Linked DNA regions of Homo sapiens: region 1 is linked to region 2. The links come from fine-mapping of genetic effects on gene expression. A gene starts in region 2. The other region holds a variant in brackets. All regions are shown on one strand. Distances are from middle to middle. Region 1 overlaps DNAJC3 (DnaJ heat shock protein family (Hsp40) member C3). Region 2 holds the start of DNAJC3 (DnaJ heat shock protein family (Hsp40) member C3).

Region 1 (8,740 bases), 83 kb before region 2:
TTTTCCCTTATTAATCTAGAGTCCCATAGAAGGTACACTCCATAATTAAGAGTTAGGAAATAAAAACATATGACCATAGGAGATGCAGATGGACAGAACAAAGCATACCTGTGAGTATAAGTACCAATCAAACCAGAAGAATTTCCTTACAGAAACATTGCTCAGAATTCCAAACCTGAGTAAAACACCCTGTTGAAGTCTGACTTACACTGAGCACCTTGAACAATACAGAGATCAAGTTTTATTTCTTGGTCAGTAAACACTTCCATGAAAATAATGGAACCCATTACGTGCCATTTTATATAATTAATGTCAGTATTTACAACAAAGTACAACGTAGTTCACACAAAAGGTACCTGATTAAATTCCCAACTGTATAAGCTTTCTAAGAATAAAAGCTATTTCAGCATTTTCTTTAAACCAGTAAAAAGTACTAATCCTGTTATATACTCAGTTATTTCCCTCAACAATAGTAAAGTAAAAAATATGTTTCTATGCCATGGTGGCACACTATTCCCAAAGTGCTACAATCTTCATATGTAAATATGCCAATGTATTAAAACACAGGCTTAACTAAAACATTTAAAATAAAAGCCAGCTTCTCTATCATCCTCAGCAAACTAACGCAGGAACAGAAAACAAAGCACTGCATATTCTCACTCATAAGTGGGAGCTGAACAATGAGAACACATGGACACAGGGAGGGGAACATCACACACGGAGGCCTGTGTGGGGCAGGCAGCAAGGGGAGGGAGAGCATCAGGACAAATAGCTAATGCATGTGGGGCTTAATACCTAAGTAATGGGTTGATAGGTGCAGCAAACCACCATGGCACACGTTTACCTATGTAACAAACCTCCACATTCTGCACATACATCCTGGAACTTAAAGAAGAAAACAAAAAAGCCAGCTTCTGGGAAAGTGGAATAGATGTATTTGTCCCAAGTGCTCCAGCTAAGCACAACTAAAAAACCCTAGAGATTATATGTATATTTTTTAAAATAGAAAACTTTCAAAGGAGGAAAAGAGACAGACTAGCTAGTGACTCAGGACCTGAGGAAAACATGGTAAGACGTTCCCTGGGTTCTTTTTTTTTGTTTCATATATCCCAGACTTGGAGCTGAAGATTCCAGCAATGCAGAAACGCCAACAGGTACAGAACGACAATAACAAAAACCTGCAGAAGTCTGCTCTGTCTAGCCAGAGGACCTGAAAAGGACAGACTTGCAAACAGAAAACATTTTTTTTAGAGACGGAGTTTCGCTCTTGTTGCCCAGGCTGGAGTGTAATGGCACAATCTCGGCTCACCGCAACCTCAACTTCCCGGGTTCAAGCGATTCTCCCACCTCAGCCTCCGCAGTAGCTGGGATTACAGGCATGCGCCACCACGCCCGGCTAATTTTGTATTTTTAGTAGAGACAGGGTTTCTCCGTGTTGGTCAGGCTGGTCTCAAACTCCCAACCTCAGGTCCTTCAATGGATAAATGGTTAAACAAACTGCAGTAAATCCATACCATGGAAACTACTCAACAGTAAACAAGGAGGAATTATTGATACAATATGGATAAATCTCCAGACAATTCGAATGAGGGGGAAAAAAGCCCATCCTGCCAGCTGTGGTAGCATGCATCTGAAGTCCCAGCTACTCAGAAGGCTGAGGCAGAAGGATCACTTGAGTGTACTATGACTGTATCTGTGAACAGGTGGGCAACATAGTGAGATTGTCTCAAAAAAAAAAAAAGCCAATCCCAAAAGTTTATACATTGTATGATTCTATTTATGTAACATTCTTAAAATGACAGAATTCTACAAGTGAATAGATTAGTGGTTGCCACAAGCTAAGGAAGGGATAGGAACAAGAGGGAAGTAGGTGTGGCTATAAGGGCAACATGAGGTGTCCTTGTTGGGATGGAATTATTCTGTATCTTGACTGCACCCACGTCAATATCCTGATTGTGACAATGTACTATAGTTTTGCAAGGCGTTATAGTCTGCAAGATGTTGGGGGAAACCGAGTGAAGCATTCTCATGATGGCAACTTACAAAGCTACTAAAAGTAGAGGAATTGGAGCCTATTTTCTATTAGGCAGTTTTGTCTGCAGTGCCCTCTACTCTTTTCAGTCCTCCTGCCCAGCCTATAAACCCCCTACAAACAACACTCACACAGACACAGCCTCTTACTTCTGTCCACTTTTACTTATTCTTTAGGATTAGGATTTAAATATCTATCACCTTCTCTAAAAAAAAAAGCTCCTCTTTTACTCCTTGCCTTTACCATCCTGGTTTGGAGTAAATACTCCTCTTTGGTACTCCAATTATCCTATGTACATTCTATCACTTTGGTATCATATTGTCTTTTAATAATCAATTCATATATTTGTCTCCCACGCAATGCTATAAACTTCTTAAGAACAAAAACTATTGTCAAGTTTAAGTCTGCACCCTCAGTACATAGCTCAGCCTGATATAGGAGATAATAAATATTTGGTATAGTACAAGTAATTCTGCTGGTAAGGATACTACACAGTTACTATTATTTATATTCTTCCCTATTCCAAAAATGTCCAATTCTGGTAGTTTTGCTAAGGCCCAGGGCTATCTAGAATACCCCACCCTCAATGGCTGAGAAGTAAAAGAGCAGTTCTGTAGTTCACTTGTGCCCACAGCCCCGCACATAAGGAATGGCTGGACAGTTGGAACAACCATATTCTCACCTGCCATCTCTGATGAGCTCTTCAGCTGACTCAATCAGCTTATTAAGTTTCTTTACTTGTTTATAGTGTGCAAAACACCTTTTATGATCCTGGTCAAGTTTAAGACATTCCCGAACTTCACTGTTCATGTATTTAAAAAAGGAAAATACTCCATGTCAAAACAATCAATGAGTAGTTTTCCACAGAAATCACAATAAAAGTATTTTTTGTTTGCAACGATTAAACAAAAACCATACTGAGACTTATAATTTACTATATACATTTATACGTGGCATTGTACCATGCATACATTTGTTAATTCAAATTAAAATGACTTACTAGCATTATATAGTAAACATTCCATTTTGTTTCTATAAATATAAGAGCCTTCCTGTTTAATAAGCAGCTTCATGAAAACAAACTATGTGGAATTAAAGTAACTTGGGAATAACACAAAATATATAAATGGATATACAATATAAAAACAGCCTTAACTACCATCATCTTATTAATTTAATATTAAAATGTTAAAACAAGATGAGGTAATCTTACTGCCAACAATTAAAAAAGATCAGACATGTGTGTCACTAGAACTGACCTGAGGGACAGTTCGTGGTCTCCTAGTTGGTAGTACAGTGTGCTTATTTTATAAAACGCTTCAGTATTATCATTCTTCAACTTTGACGCAGCTTTTAAGTCACTTATAGCTTTCCTAGGTTCTCCTTCTTTTATAAAACATTCAGCTCGAAGTTCCCGTAGTTCTGCATCCCAAACACAAACCTTGAGGAACAAAAGAACTAGACTTTAAGAAAGAATAAATTATGCACATTCATTGTTGCATTCCACGTATTTTTTATCTACGTATTTATCAACATAAAACATTCTCAATTGATGTGATGACTTATATAGTGCAAATATTATTTTAAAATCTGATACAATTTAAATGTGACAAAACTGATGTGACAAAATAGTTTCTCCAAAAATGTTGTAAATGAATTCTAATGGGGGAAGAGATATATATAATAACAAGGCCCTTTTCTTACCTCCTTCGATTATATAATTCTAAGACACTGAAAATAAGAAAACATAGCATTTACTATTGGAGGGTTGTTCCTAGTGAAGCATATTTGAAGAGAATATTCTGTTATCAGATTTTTATACTTAATCAACAATTCTAATTTGTAGTCAAAAAAATAAAACCTAGGTTCTACATTGGCAAAATACTTTTTTCTGCTAATAACCACATTATGTTCTTAGCTGGGCACATTGACTCATGCCTGTAATTCCAGACCAGCTTAGGCAGCAAAGCAAGATCTCATCTCTATAAAAAGTTTAAAATTATTAACTGGGTGTGGTGGAACACACCAGTGGTCCCAGCTACTCAGGAGGCTGAGATGGGAGGATCACTTGAGTCCAGGAGTTCAAGGTTACAGTGAGCTACAATCGCACCACTGCACTCCAGTCTAGGTAACAGAGAGAGACCCAGTCTCTAAACAAAAACCTTTTTTAAGAAATTATCTTCTGTAAATGTCACCGCCTTAAAAGTAAATCCTCATATCAAGAAAAAGAAAGAAAGAAAGAAAAAATACCGTGAGAGGGCAGGAGGTTGAGGCTTCACCATTCCTATTTTATCAAAAAGTCCATAAGGGTTTAGGAAACACAATAGTATTCTTCAAATCATAAACCCAAGAGCTCATCAATAAGGCTGGTGGAAGTATCTTTGCATATTTCTTAGAGCTGCTCTAAAGTCGTATCGACTTTTCACATATACAAAAATATCAAAACCAACATTATACATAAATATCATGGACAATGAACTAAGTTCAAAATGGATAGTCTATGGGAATGTAAAAATGTAAACTATATTTCCTTAAAAAAGCATAAACAAAATAACCCAGTAAAACATGAATTCTACTGGACCATATCACAATATCTTCTGTAAAATTATCAACAAATTGCCCATTCTACATACATCATAAGTTTAGAGCCAAAATTAAATGAAACTGTATATCAAAATACTGTGAAAATCACAAATAAATGTGAATTACGACTGCTTCCATTTGAATATTTCAGTAGACTTCCTTCGGAAATCAGTTGTCATTAAATCCTTCAGAGGCAAGGAAACCTAGACTCAGGTTTCCCTAGCTAGAACTCTCTGGATCCTATCAACCATTATTATTATTAACTTTTTTTTTTTTTTT[TG/G]AGACGGAGTCTCACTCTGTGGCCCAGGCTACAGTGTAGTGGCTCACTGCAACCTCTGCTTCTCAGGTTCGAGCGCCTCAGCCTCCCGAGTAGCTGGGATCACAAGCATGCACACCACACCCAGCTAATTTTCTTTTTTTTTTTTTTAGACACAGGATTTTGCCATGTTGGCCAGGCTAGTCTCAAACTCCTGGCCTCAAGTGATCCACCCACCTCGACCTCCCAAAGTGCTGGGATTACAGGCATGAGCCACCACACCCAGCCAATTATTAATATTTTTAGAGGCAGGGTCCCATTCTGTCGCCCAGGCTGGGGTACAGTGGAGCAATCACAGCTCACTGCAGCGACAAATTCTTGGGCTCAAGTGATCCTCCAGCCTCAGCTCCCAAGTAACTAGGACTACAGGCACATACTATCAACTCTTTATCTGCCTTATTCTCTAGAAATTTTTCTCTAAACATTCCTCTTTCCTCCCGAACATCATTTTTCCTTTTACTCCAACCATCTTTTTCATCTTTTATCCCATTATCTAACCGCTAGAGTTTTCTTCCCAAAAAAATACAAAATCAACTAAAATAGCAAAGCAAGCAATTTATAAACATATTTAACTCTCATGCCACAGCACATTCAGTACATTTACTGAAAACTTCAGTCCAAATTTTGTTGTCTAGGAACACTATTTTATACTTAAGAGGCAAAAGCCCAAGGACCAACCTGATTTTCTCCTGTCTAGGTCTTTGTGGTATGTGACATGTCGAAGTATATAAATGTGCCTTACAATAAGTGTCAGGCTGGTCAACTGCAGTATCTAAGAAACTTACCTCTAAAATCTTATCAAGGAAGGCTATAGCAGCAGTATAATCTCCACTTCCAAAAGCGTTAAGTGCTTGTGAACGCAAACGCTGCATTTCATCAGATTTTATAAGTTGAGACTGTGCTTCCTTTTCTTCATTTTCACTTGGATTAGATTTGAGCTATAAGGAAAATAAAAAACTAAGCAGAGTTTTTAATCTCTTAAATCTGATACCTGTAATATACACAAGGGTAAACCATTCCAAATACTTAAGTTCATTGGGTAAAAAGGGTAAAGAGATACTGGAAAAACTGGCTTGTCTGATGACTGGATGCAGCAGGGAAGGCCCTTGATTTCTACCGATATGGTCCATGAGCATGAACAACAGATCTAGACTCAGAAGACCTGGGTCCCAAAAACTTACCGGGAAGCAAATACATGTAGGCACGTGAAAGGACAGAGAAGAACGGAGGAAGGAAAGCACGTTTTTCACTTTCTTACATATAGCTCTGCAGAATAAATTAACTTGAGTTTTATTTATTTTGCCTTCTACTTATAGTTCCTAAGTATTTTTTTAAGTATAAAATAACCAAAATAATGAAACACATAGGGAAACTGAAAGAAGGGGCCAGCTTTTTTAGAGGTTGTAAGATTTAAAAAAAGATCTGATACCAAAAGGGTTAAAGTACAAGAAAGAATTTAGAAGGAAATAAGAGTAATACCTTACTAAAAGGTGCATGATGTGGCTTTAAGAGATCTGCACACTGCCTCTTTTTAAAATAACTTTATAAAGACATAATTTATATAGCATAAAATTGCTCATTTCAAATGTACAATTCTATGATTTTTTAAAAAATAAATTTACCAAGTTGTGCAGCCATCACCACAGTTTTAGACCATTTCCATCACCCCAGTAAGATCCCTTGTTTTTACTTACAGTTCATCCCCACTCCCAACCCCAGCCCTGTGCACAGGGACTCTTAACAATTTCTTCCTCCAGACAAAAAATAATTATCTCAGAAAACCAGGTAGCTACATTTTTTTAAGCCTGAGGGAGGGGAGGTTAAGATTGTAGTTTATATTTAATAATTTTTGAAATCTTAATATTCTTACTAAGATGCAAACTATAACTAAAGGGTTCCAATTTTGGGTTAGGTACAGACAAGGGAAAGTTAATTCTAGAAATCTCCCTCCTCAATGAGTCAATCATATTCCTCCTTTCAGTGGATTAATTTTTAAAATATACTCCCACTACCAACCTGGTGGGACAGAACACTCCAAATGAGAAACTTTATCAATATTATTTCTTGGTAAGGGTTTTATACTTGTCCATTTTGTGTTTTAGGATATTTTAGCTATTCTATTTTAGCTATTCTATTTTGTCTGTTTTAACCCTTGACTTGTGAAGAACAGGACTTGAAGTACTCATTGGTAACTAGGAATTGGTAACCTCCACTCACTCTGGGGGAGGGTTTCCCGGAATGATTGCATCATCCAGTTTAAGGGTGTTGTTTGGAGTCAGACATGCTTGTCTCTGTCTGTTTTATCATCCTTAGGGTGGTCTTGAATACTTCGGATAAACCCCATCGGAGAGAGTATGAATGTGTGTGCACTGTCACTTTGCTCTGGGTAAAAGTTTATTGATAACGTGTTTCCTATGAGTACACTACTGACCCTCTTAGATAGAATGTATCAAAGACTGACTGCCTCTTCAGGATCGTATTTGCACCTTTTTTTCCTCTCAAACATTGGAGTCTAATTTCTTCCACACAATTTTTCTTGTTGGAAGGTGAGAGGAGAAGCCCTAAATCTCGGGACAGAGGCTGGAGGGCTCAGGTAATGGAAACAGGAAAGAGGGAGTGAGCTCAGGTCATCTAGGCCTCTGTGAGGCCAGAAGAGAGGTGGGGAAGAGGGAGAGAGGATTCTTCCAAGGAAGTAAGAAAGGAGTTGGAGAAACGAGGGGCTTCCTTAGAAGCCTGAGAGTTTCAAAGAGAGTCAAGCCAGATGAAATTAGGGTTTTGGGGGATTTTTTTTTATTCTTTTTTTTTTTTTTTTTTTTTTTTTTTTTGAGACGGCGTCTCGCTCTGTCACCTAGGCTGGAGTGCAGTGGTGCAATCTCAGGTCACTGCAACCTCCGTCTCCTGGGTTCATGCAATTCTCCTGCCTCAGCCTCCTGAGTAGCTGGGACTACAGGCATCCGCCACCATGCCCGGCTAATTTTTGTATTTTTAGTAGAGATGGTGTTTCACCATATTGGCCAGGGTGGTCTCGAACTCCTGACCTTGTGATCCGCCCGCCTCAGCCTCCCAAAGTGCTGGGATTACAGGCGTGAGCCACTGAGCCAGGCCCATTTTTTTATTCTTTAAAGAGACAGGGGACAGGGTCTTGCTCTGTCTCCCAGGCTGGAGTGTAGTGGCATGTTCTTAGCTCACTGCAATCTCCAGCTCCTCAGTTCAAGCAATCCTCCAGCCTCAGCCTCCCAAGTAGCTGCAACTACAGGTGCATGCCACTACAGCCAGCTAATTTTTTATTATTTTTTGTAGAGACAGGGTTGTCTCACTATGTTGCCTAGGCTGGTCTCCAACTCCGGGCCTCAGGTGATCCTCCTGTCTCAGCCTTCCAAAGCACGGGATTACACATATGAGCCACTGTGCCCGTCTGAGATGAAGATTTTTATTATTACCATGAGGCTGTTGACTCCTCTCAATCACCCCCTTGTTTTCTCTACACCTGCATGTAGAGAATGGCCCTTGCTGACAATTCCCTCATTCTTCCCTTTTTCATGTTTCTTGACATCCTTTCTCTTCCTTAGGGCTTTCACATTTCTGACTCTTTCTGCCAAATCCCTTCCTGTAACAATATTTTATATTTTTTACTTCTCACTATGTATCCTGGTCACTGAGCTTCTGGAAAAATAACCCGTAATAGCTACGGGATGGGGGCTTGTTCAAAGAGATGATCTGCCTTCTGTATGACTGCACCTCTACTTCTGGCGCCTCAAATAAAAACACCAGGTTGGCAGTTGTGGTAAGCAGCCTTCTAAGATGGCCCC
Region 2 (8,740 bases):
CCTCCCAGAACAACTTCCCCTACCTCACAGAATGAAAACCACTGCATTTCCAGGCAGTTTCTCAGCAAATACTAACTATGTCAAGAGAACTGGAACTTTGATACTACTGCTAACTACAGCCTATCTTATTAAAGAATTTAAAATAATTCTAGAAAATATGTGACCACCTTTTATGATACTTAATTTATTTAAATTACTTAAAGTCACTCATTTTTGCTACTTTATTCTTTCCCTATTTAGATAATGTCAAGAAAATCCTAGAAAAGACAAAACATACCTTTAATAGGTTAGGTTCAAATAAAACTTATCATGGTTCAAATAAAACTTATCACAATATTTTATACGTATAGATTTTCAACTATATATTTTCAACTATTCTTTTCCCCATGGCCAAAATATATGGTTTAATCAGCTCAATGAAATAAAGAAAAATTGGGTCCAGATAGCATGTTAAGGAAGAAAAAGAGATAAAACTATGATAAGAGAAAAAAGGTTTCGTTCCCAGGCTGTGTTGCTACTCAAGTCACCAAGAGGACAAACCATTAGCAAAGAAATGAAATAACTTCCTTATCTGTAACATGAGAATACTAAAGCAGATACTACTAAAGTTTTCTTTCTATTCCAAAAATTCGATCTCATCTAGTGCTTTAGACTTCACTCTTTCAAACGCCTTTGAGAAGGGAGGGTGCCAAAAGACTCAAACTTTCAATTCATGATATATACTTTCTGTCTCTGGATGACAATTAACAGAAAAATCTAGAAGAAAACAAAGGCAAATATTTCAAAATCAGAAAAACACTAGGTTATCTCTTCCCCATCCTGTGCCACTCTTAGTTCCACATTCACTTCTCTCATAACCATTCTCCTTCATTTCTTTTTTTAAAAGTGAATTGTATTGTATATATTTGATGTTTACAACATAGTATTATGAGATATACACACATAAAATGGTTACAATAGTGAAGCAGATTAATAAGAGTGAAGCAGATTAATATATCTATCATCTCACATAATTACTTTTTGTGTGACAAGAGCAGCTAAAACCTACCTATTTAACAAAAATCCTTAATACAACACAATTTTATTAAGCCTCAGGCCTAGCAGTAGCACCATTTGCCTTTCAGAGAACTATGAGATTAGTGAATCCAGACACAATTTATTTGGGAAAACAGGGGCTAACGGTTTGCTAATTCAAGTCAGAGTTCTTACCTTTATATCCCTATCACCAAATCCAGTGTCAAATACATAGCAGACACCTAATTTAACTCCTCTATATAATTTATTACACCAGTGGTTCTCAAGTGTGGTCATCCAGGGTCTTTCTAGAAACGCAAAATTTCAGGTCCCATCAAGACCTAATGAATCAAACTCTGTAAGTGGGGTACAGCACTCTGTTTTAAAAAGCCCTCCATGTGCGATTCTGATGCACACTCAAGTTTGAGAACCACTGTATTAAACCTCCCAGGAAATAACCTTCTTGTTAATTACAAAAAAAAAAAAAAAAAAAAAGTGCTGATTTTTTTTCTCAGCTGCCATCACTTAAAAGTGCTTGGACTCACATGATGTTGTCAACTACTTAACTTCTGTCTCCAGCGTGCACACAAAATGAACTTTAGTAAAACCTTTGGAGCCTCAGTTCCCTGGTCTGTAAAGTAGGAATGAATACCACACGCTTTCGTGAATAAGATATGGCTTACAGAAAGGCTCCTTTCTTTCCTTTTTCTGTTACCTGTACTAAGTCCCTGCTATTTTACACAGACAATGGTCCTAAAGAAGACACTCTGGCACTCCTCTGAGAAATGTCACCAGTGCCTCCTACACAGAAAAGCTCTCAAATGTGGTTTTCTTATGGAAAATACCACAGGAGGGAAATGAAGAGTTAAGAGTCCTTACAGACTCATATACAGAACAGCAATTCTAAAAAGTAGTGGGAAAAGCAATCATTCAAAATTGTGCATCTCTGTAACTTAAAAAAAAAAATCACCATTAAACAGAACATAGGCAACTTTCTCTTAAGTGTCCAAAATAAATTATTAATGATAACTGGAGATAAATACTACAGATGAGGGATGGTGGGGTGCGGGGGCAGGAGGAATGAAGCTTTTGAAAATGCAAAAGAACTAGAATATATGACCCATATTAAAGTGGTACAGACCTTCAAATTCCAATCCCCTAGATTTTTCTGGGGGCAGCCTCACTGTCAAATTCTTTGTCCCAATGTTGCCACACTACGTGTTCTGATTTGGGGTTCAAAAAATATGGTTACCAGGGGAAGCAAAAGCAAAAGCCCATTGCTATGGGTGACACCTAAAAACTGGGGAGTACTACTTTAAAAAAAAAAGTTGAGAACTTTCAGAAGAATTCACTATAAACAATTCCCAATTTTTAGTTCCTCGCTCCCTTTGAATGGAATACTCAAAGGTTTAATTTGACCTCCTTGACAACTAGCCCTTTTTATGGGGATGAAAATAGATCAGTGCATGTGATGTGTCATTACACTCGAATATTTCGCACAGTAACCGCGCCAGAAGCATTCGTTAAATCGGCACTATCAACTTTAATTCTTACTCCTCCCCGCTGCCATCTAAGATAGGACAGCCCTCTATTTTCGCTATTCTGGAGTAGCCAACATTCCAGTCTGCAGGACTGAAGTGAAATTTAATCGTTCGTATCTTTTTAAGGGAACCTTTTTACAGCGAACTTGGAAAAGTAATGCCAGCCATACGTTGAATGACACCATGTTGGGAGTTGTAAAACCACAAACTCAGTGCCTGGCCGTCCGGGAGATGGAATTCCAACAGCGGCTCCTCATTGCACCAAACTAACAATTTCTCTACACGACAGTGCATCTTAATGGGGATGGTTACACACTTTTTAAATAGTCAACACTGTCCCCTCCAACTCCCAGCCGGACATGACACTCCTTCCCCACCCAAGAACTCCAGAGCGAAGGAAGTCTTTTGGCCACCTTAGTGCCTCCTCCCAGCCAGCACCAATGACTGACAGTGTCCCCAGGCGCCCAGCGAGGGTCCCAAGCGAGGCCAGGACCCAAAGGCTGCCCAAGTCTCCGCGTCCCAGGACTTCCTGAAGTCGTAGCCCGGTGCCCCCGCACCCCGCCTCCTCCGACTCCTGCGGCCCGGTTCCTTAGTCCAAACCCGCTGTCCCGGCCCCGCGGCCCGCCAGTCCCCTCGATTCTTCCCCAGACAAACCCGGAACCGGGCGCGGGCTCAGGCCCAAGCCAGGCCGCGGGCTCCCCCAGCGCTCGCCCCACCTCCCGAGCCGCTCCGGGACAGGCGCCCGGGCGCAGACGGGAAAGCGCGGGGGGCCTGGTCCGGGAGCCCACTTCCTGGCCGGGGCAGGGCAGGACTCACCTTCGTACTGCAGATCCACCAGGACTAGCAGGAAGGGGAATACCGAGCCCAGCCGGCTGGTCACGGAGCCGGGGGCCACCATGTCCGAGGGCTCGCGAGTGAAGAGGAGGAAAGGTGTGTGGCCCACCAGCACGCGCCGGCGCTCCGGCAGCAGCTGCGCCCGCCCGCCGTCGGCTCTCGCTCAGGCCTCAGTGGCTCTGGAGCCCAGCAGAGGAAGGCAGCGGTGGGCGGGGCCCGGGCGACGCTACGCCCCAGAGCGCCGCCGCCATCCAATCGCCTTCTTTCTGGCGGCTTTCCTCCCGGGCTCGCCGGGGTCGTGGTTCGCGCTGATAGGCTGCGGAGGCCGCCGCCCCGCCCCGTCCCTGATAGGATAACGTGGAAGCACGAGACGAGGCTGCGCCCGCCGGTCGCAGAGCTGTCAGCAAGCTCCAAACCGCGGCTGCCGCCCGGAGGGAAGCAGACGGGGAGTCGGTGGCGGCCGCCGAGTCCGCATGCGCAGGCTGCAAAGGCCCTTTTGGGCCGGTCCCGCCGCGCTAGGTTGGCGAGTGGGACTATTTGATCCTTTCCAGGTTCGCCAGCGTGGTGTTACGAGAGGAAAGCGCAGCCGCAGCGTACGAATGGGAAGGCCAAACACGGTCCCGGGGAGTCTGAGGGAAGCTGCAGGGCGCCTGGAATTGGGGTCTCGAGTGAGCCGGTAAAAACCGCCTCCCGCTGAGCGTCCCGGAACAAATACTGTCTGAACTGAGCCGTAAGCAAGAAACGGTCAGGAGAAGCTGGGGCGATCTGATGATTAGAACATTTCAGGGACTACCAGAGAGAAGTGCGTAATTGCTCTAAGGCAGGTAGGTAATTGGCCTGGAAACTTGGGAACGCCCCGCCCCCCACCCCGACTTTCAGCAAACCACCGTGCCCAGGAAAAAGAGCGATTGTGGAAGACCCTGTGAAGAAGAGACCAGGAAGGCACTGTGGCTTAAGAGAGCAAGGCGTTCCTGAATGCAGCCAACATCAACTGGTAAACAAAAAACTGTGAGAACGGATCCTGAATCTTGCGCTTACCAGGGGAAATTCAGGAGAGATATGAACCTGAGCAAGATGAGGTTGAAGTTACTCAATGCGGCATTAAGCCTGTTCACGGCCACTTCCTCCGGCGTCACCAACACACACACTGTACACCAGCAGTATTTTTACACGGGGTATGTGTGTTAAGTACTATCAGGTGGATAATTATTACTTCACCTGTATTTGCTGCCTTGATACCATTAGAGAAACTCATGAATTATAAATAGCATAGTGAATTTGTGATTCCCTGAAGATATACTAAGGTGGACTTTTAAAAAGGCTTCTATTCCAAAGGGAACTAATATGGAGGAAATGGTTTCGAGAAAGAAAAAAGAAAAAACGGAGTCCTTGATTAGTTGTGGGGAAGGCAACATAATGTAATGTGAAGAATAAAGGAGTCAGATCCAGGAAACCCCATAACTATTATGTAAGTTATCTTCATCTGTAAAGTGGTTAGGATCCTGATAGTCTCAAAGGTTTGTTTTGAGGTTTCATGAAGCAGATAAATATTCTTGTAAATTGTAGAATGTTATACCAGTGTTACTCATTATTCTAACAAGAGCAGAGTAGTGAAGAGAGGCTCCTTCAGAAATTCCTTGGGATTTTTTTTTTTTTGGCTTCTGTTTTTTTATATCACAAGGTAGTGTCTCTGAAAAATGGTAGATGATTTCAATGTCCACAAATATGCAGGTGTAGACATTCAATTGAGGTACTGTACCCAAGGCAGCCAGCAAAATGCTGAACATAGAAAATAACTTTGTAAACAAAATGCAATATTTCTAGACAGTGAGTTATCACCAGTGTGCTGCCTATGACCCTGGCCTTAAGGAAAAAGTAGCAGAGCTGAAGAAGTTCTAAGGATGGAAATTAAAAATTATTAAGGAGATAATAGACTTCGTGTTATAGGAAATAAAAATAGCAAGGGTCTTCAATGGTGAGTGATTTTGAGATTAATTACATAACTATGAATTCTGTAATATTAGAACTAAGCTTTACAAAGCATTCCTTAAAAAAAGATAATTTTACAACAAAGGTAACATTAGACAGAAAAAAATGTACAAAACTAAAATTAAGTGATTAATGCTTGGGAATGTTTCCTCCAATGTTCATCTAGTCATGGTTTTCACGAATCACTCTTGCCAATAAAACCGAAAATCAAAGTAATCTAGTGAGTGTAAGAAAAGTTACTGTAAATATGTTTGCATTCGTCAGACTCTATGGAGTCTTTTTGAAGTTAAACATTAAATCTCCACTGTAATTCATACTGTTAATTATAGTAGCAAAAGACTTAAAAAACAATGGTAGCATATTTATGATATATCCAAAATTAAGAGTATTATGCAATTTTTATTAGGTTGATCTATGTTTATTGACTAGGAAAAACAATGTTGGTAGAGAGGAGTGAACAGATCTAGAACATATTTTGTAGGTAAAGGGAATAAGATTTGTTTAGGAATTAACTATGAGGAGAAATAAATGTTCAGAAACAAGTAGAGCACTTATAAACACCTTTTTGTGCCAAATTAAGAACAAAAAAGTCAGCATTAAGTTAATGCCACCATATACATCCTTCCACATTTATGTTTACAAACTTGTGCTTTTATTTCTAGGAAACATTTCTAGGCTGGGCGCAGTGGCTCACACCTGTAATGCTAGCGCTTTGGGAAGCCAAGATGGGAGGATTATTTGAGGCCGGGAGTTTGCGACCAGCCTGAGCAACATAGCAGGATCCTGTCTCTGCAAAAAAATTTAAAACTAGCCAGGTGCGGTGGCTCGTGCCTGTTGCCCTAGCTACTCAGGGAGACTGAGGCAGAGGATTGCTTCAACCCAGGAGTTTGAGGTTGCAGTGAGCTAAGATCATGTCACTGCACTCCAGACTGAGCAACAGAGTGACACTTTATAAAAAAAAAAAAAAAAAAAACTAGGTTTTTGAACTTGCTTAATCAAAGAATTTGTTTAAACTTTTAAGATGCGTTGTCAGATTATCTTTCCCTAAAGGAATAATTTCTATTCCTATCAGCTGTTTATATTCCTGCCTAGTCACCATCACTAGATATAATTGATTTTCAGTTTTTGCCAATCTGAGGAACAAAAAATGACCCTTATATGTCAAATTTACAGTTTATTTTCAAGGATTTTGGGATTCTGATCAAATTTTGGTACCTTCATATAAAATTTGGCTTTTATATCACATCTTGTCTTCTCTGCTTTCCACCCTCTTTTATGTTGTTTTTTGGCTTCTGGCCGCATGACTATAATCTCCGCTTTTGTATTCACATCACCTTCTGTCATTTTTGACCTTGCCTCCGTCTTACAAGGATCCTTGTAATTAATTATATTGGGCCTGCTGAGATAATCCAGGATATTCTTCCTACTCAAGTTCCTCAATTTAATCACATCTGCAAAAACTGCCTTTTGCTATAGAACAATGACAGGAGATTAGAATGTAAACATATTTGGGGGACCGTTATTCAGCTTAACACAATACGTCCCCCTTCATCAGGTGGAGCTTATTTTCCCTCCTTCCTTGAGTGTGGGCTGGACTTAGTGACTAACTTCCAAAGAACAGAGTATGGAAAGGGAGGAGGAGAGTAACTTCATAGTACAGAAACCTGGAAACACTGTCTTGGCCAGGTGGTCAAAGTTAATATCATCAAGTCATGTTGATAGCATATACTCCCAATATACTGTGATGAGAAGGGCAATTCACCTCTGTGGTATTCTCAAAACCTATAACCCAATCTAGTCTAAACATGAAAAAAAAAAAATCAAACTAAAATTGAAGGACATTCTATAAAACACCTGATCAGTATTCCTCAAAACTATCAACGTCGTGGGGAACAAGGAAAGATTGAAATACTGTAACAGACCAGAGGAAACTAAGGAAACTTAATTGATGACTGAATGCAGTGTGCTGTGTTGAACTGGATCCTAGAGAAAATAGACATTAGTGGAAAAACTACTGAAATATGAATAGTCTCAAGTTTAATAGTAGTGTACCATTATTACTTTCTTAGTTTTGACAAATGTACCATGGTTATGCAAGATGCTAACAATACAGAAAAATAAGGGGTATTTGGGACCTCCCTGTATTATCCTTATGCCCTTACTTGAAAGTTGTTTCAGCAATAGAAGTTTATTTAAAATATTGTGAAGGGCCTGAGTATTTTTAAATCAACTGCAGTGACTCTCTTTTGTGTATTTGTGTACAGATGAGTTTTTCTGCATCGAATTTTATCTCCTTTCCTTGCAGAAGAAAGAGAATTAGCCCTTTACAGAGATAACAGTTGCCTAAGCCAGCTCTTTTCTCCTCTTTTTGATGTTCTTCTTTTTCTCTCAGTTTGAAAATTGTAGGTTATTTGAGTTTTTAAAATGTCTATTGCTACATACACATTCTAGTTATATTCTAGTCCAAACAATCTAGTAAAATATCTAAAAGAAAAATGCTGTTCACTGTATTTTTTATTTTTAAAATGTGAGTGAGTGCATTTAAATAATAGGTTGTGTTATTATAATTATGAGCTAAAAGTTTTGAAGTGTGATTTAAAGAGTCTTTAACATTACAATTCTGGACTACAAAGTGTAAAAATTGTATTTTAAAAGATTCATGTACTGTTTCCGATAAATAGATGAATCTTTGATCACTGGAATGTGTTAATACTAATTTAAAGGCAGCTATATATCTTCTGATTTTATAAGAAATTAACTAAGTACAATATTATATTTTATATACAATGGGTAAACTCTTCAAAATTTAAGCTTTCTAATTTCTAAATTAAGTGACATAATGACATGTCTTTAAATAGGTTTGATCTTATAAAATTTTTGTAATAACACAAATATAAGAACTTATTATTTTCCAGATTCTCACATCTAAATCCAAACATATAAACACAATTGCATTAAATATAAATGTTATAAACACAATAATTAAACGACATAATCAAAATGGATTTTGAAAATAACATGAGGAAGACAGAGCAAGATAGCCAAATAGAAGCCTCCACCGATCATCATCCCCACAGGAACACCAACTTTGACAACTATTTACACAAAAAAAGCACCTTCATAAGAACCAAAAATCAGGCGAACAATCACAGTACCTGGTTTTAACTGCATATTGCTGACAGAGGCGTTGAAGAGAGTAGGAAAGGCAGTCTTGAATTGCCAACATCACCCCTCCCCTATCCCCTGGCAGTGACTGTGTGGCACTGAGAGAGAATTTGTACATTTGTGGAAGGAGAAAGGACAGTAATTATGGGCCTTTGCCTTGAAACTTAGTGCTGCCAACACCCATGGAGGGAGCATTT

Evidence for each region.
Region 1: its variant is fine-mapped to the expression of DNAJC3 in whole blood (INTERVAL, PIP above 0.99).

The regions. Positions count from the first base shown.
Region 1 is chr13:95,754,773-95,763,512 of GRCh38, reverse strand. It overlaps DNAJC3 (DnaJ heat shock protein family (Hsp40) member C3), which reads right to left. Exons shown (of 12, transcript NM_006260.5): 5 at 5,717-5,869; 6 at 3,292-3,473; 7 at 2,715-2,834. Among named protein-coding and RNA genes, the nearest start is that of DNAJC3, 82 kb to the right of the region's middle. The variant TG/G (reference allele first, on the strand shown) is at 4,895.
Region 2 is chr13:95,671,969-95,680,708 of GRCh38, reverse strand. It overlaps DNAJC3 (DnaJ heat shock protein family (Hsp40) member C3), which reads right to left and starts at 3,570. Exons shown (of 12, transcript NM_006260.5): 1 at 3,372-3,570. The coding sequence starts at 3,453. DNAJC3-DT (DNAJC3 divergent transcript) reads left to right here and starts at 3,784. Exons shown (of 2, transcript NR_132117.1): 1 at 3,784-4,857; 2 at 6,041-7,874. RefSeq lists silencers at 3,190-3,279, 3,510-3,749 and enhancers at 3,390-3,439, 2,786-3,632, 4,270-4,369, 3,633-4,480.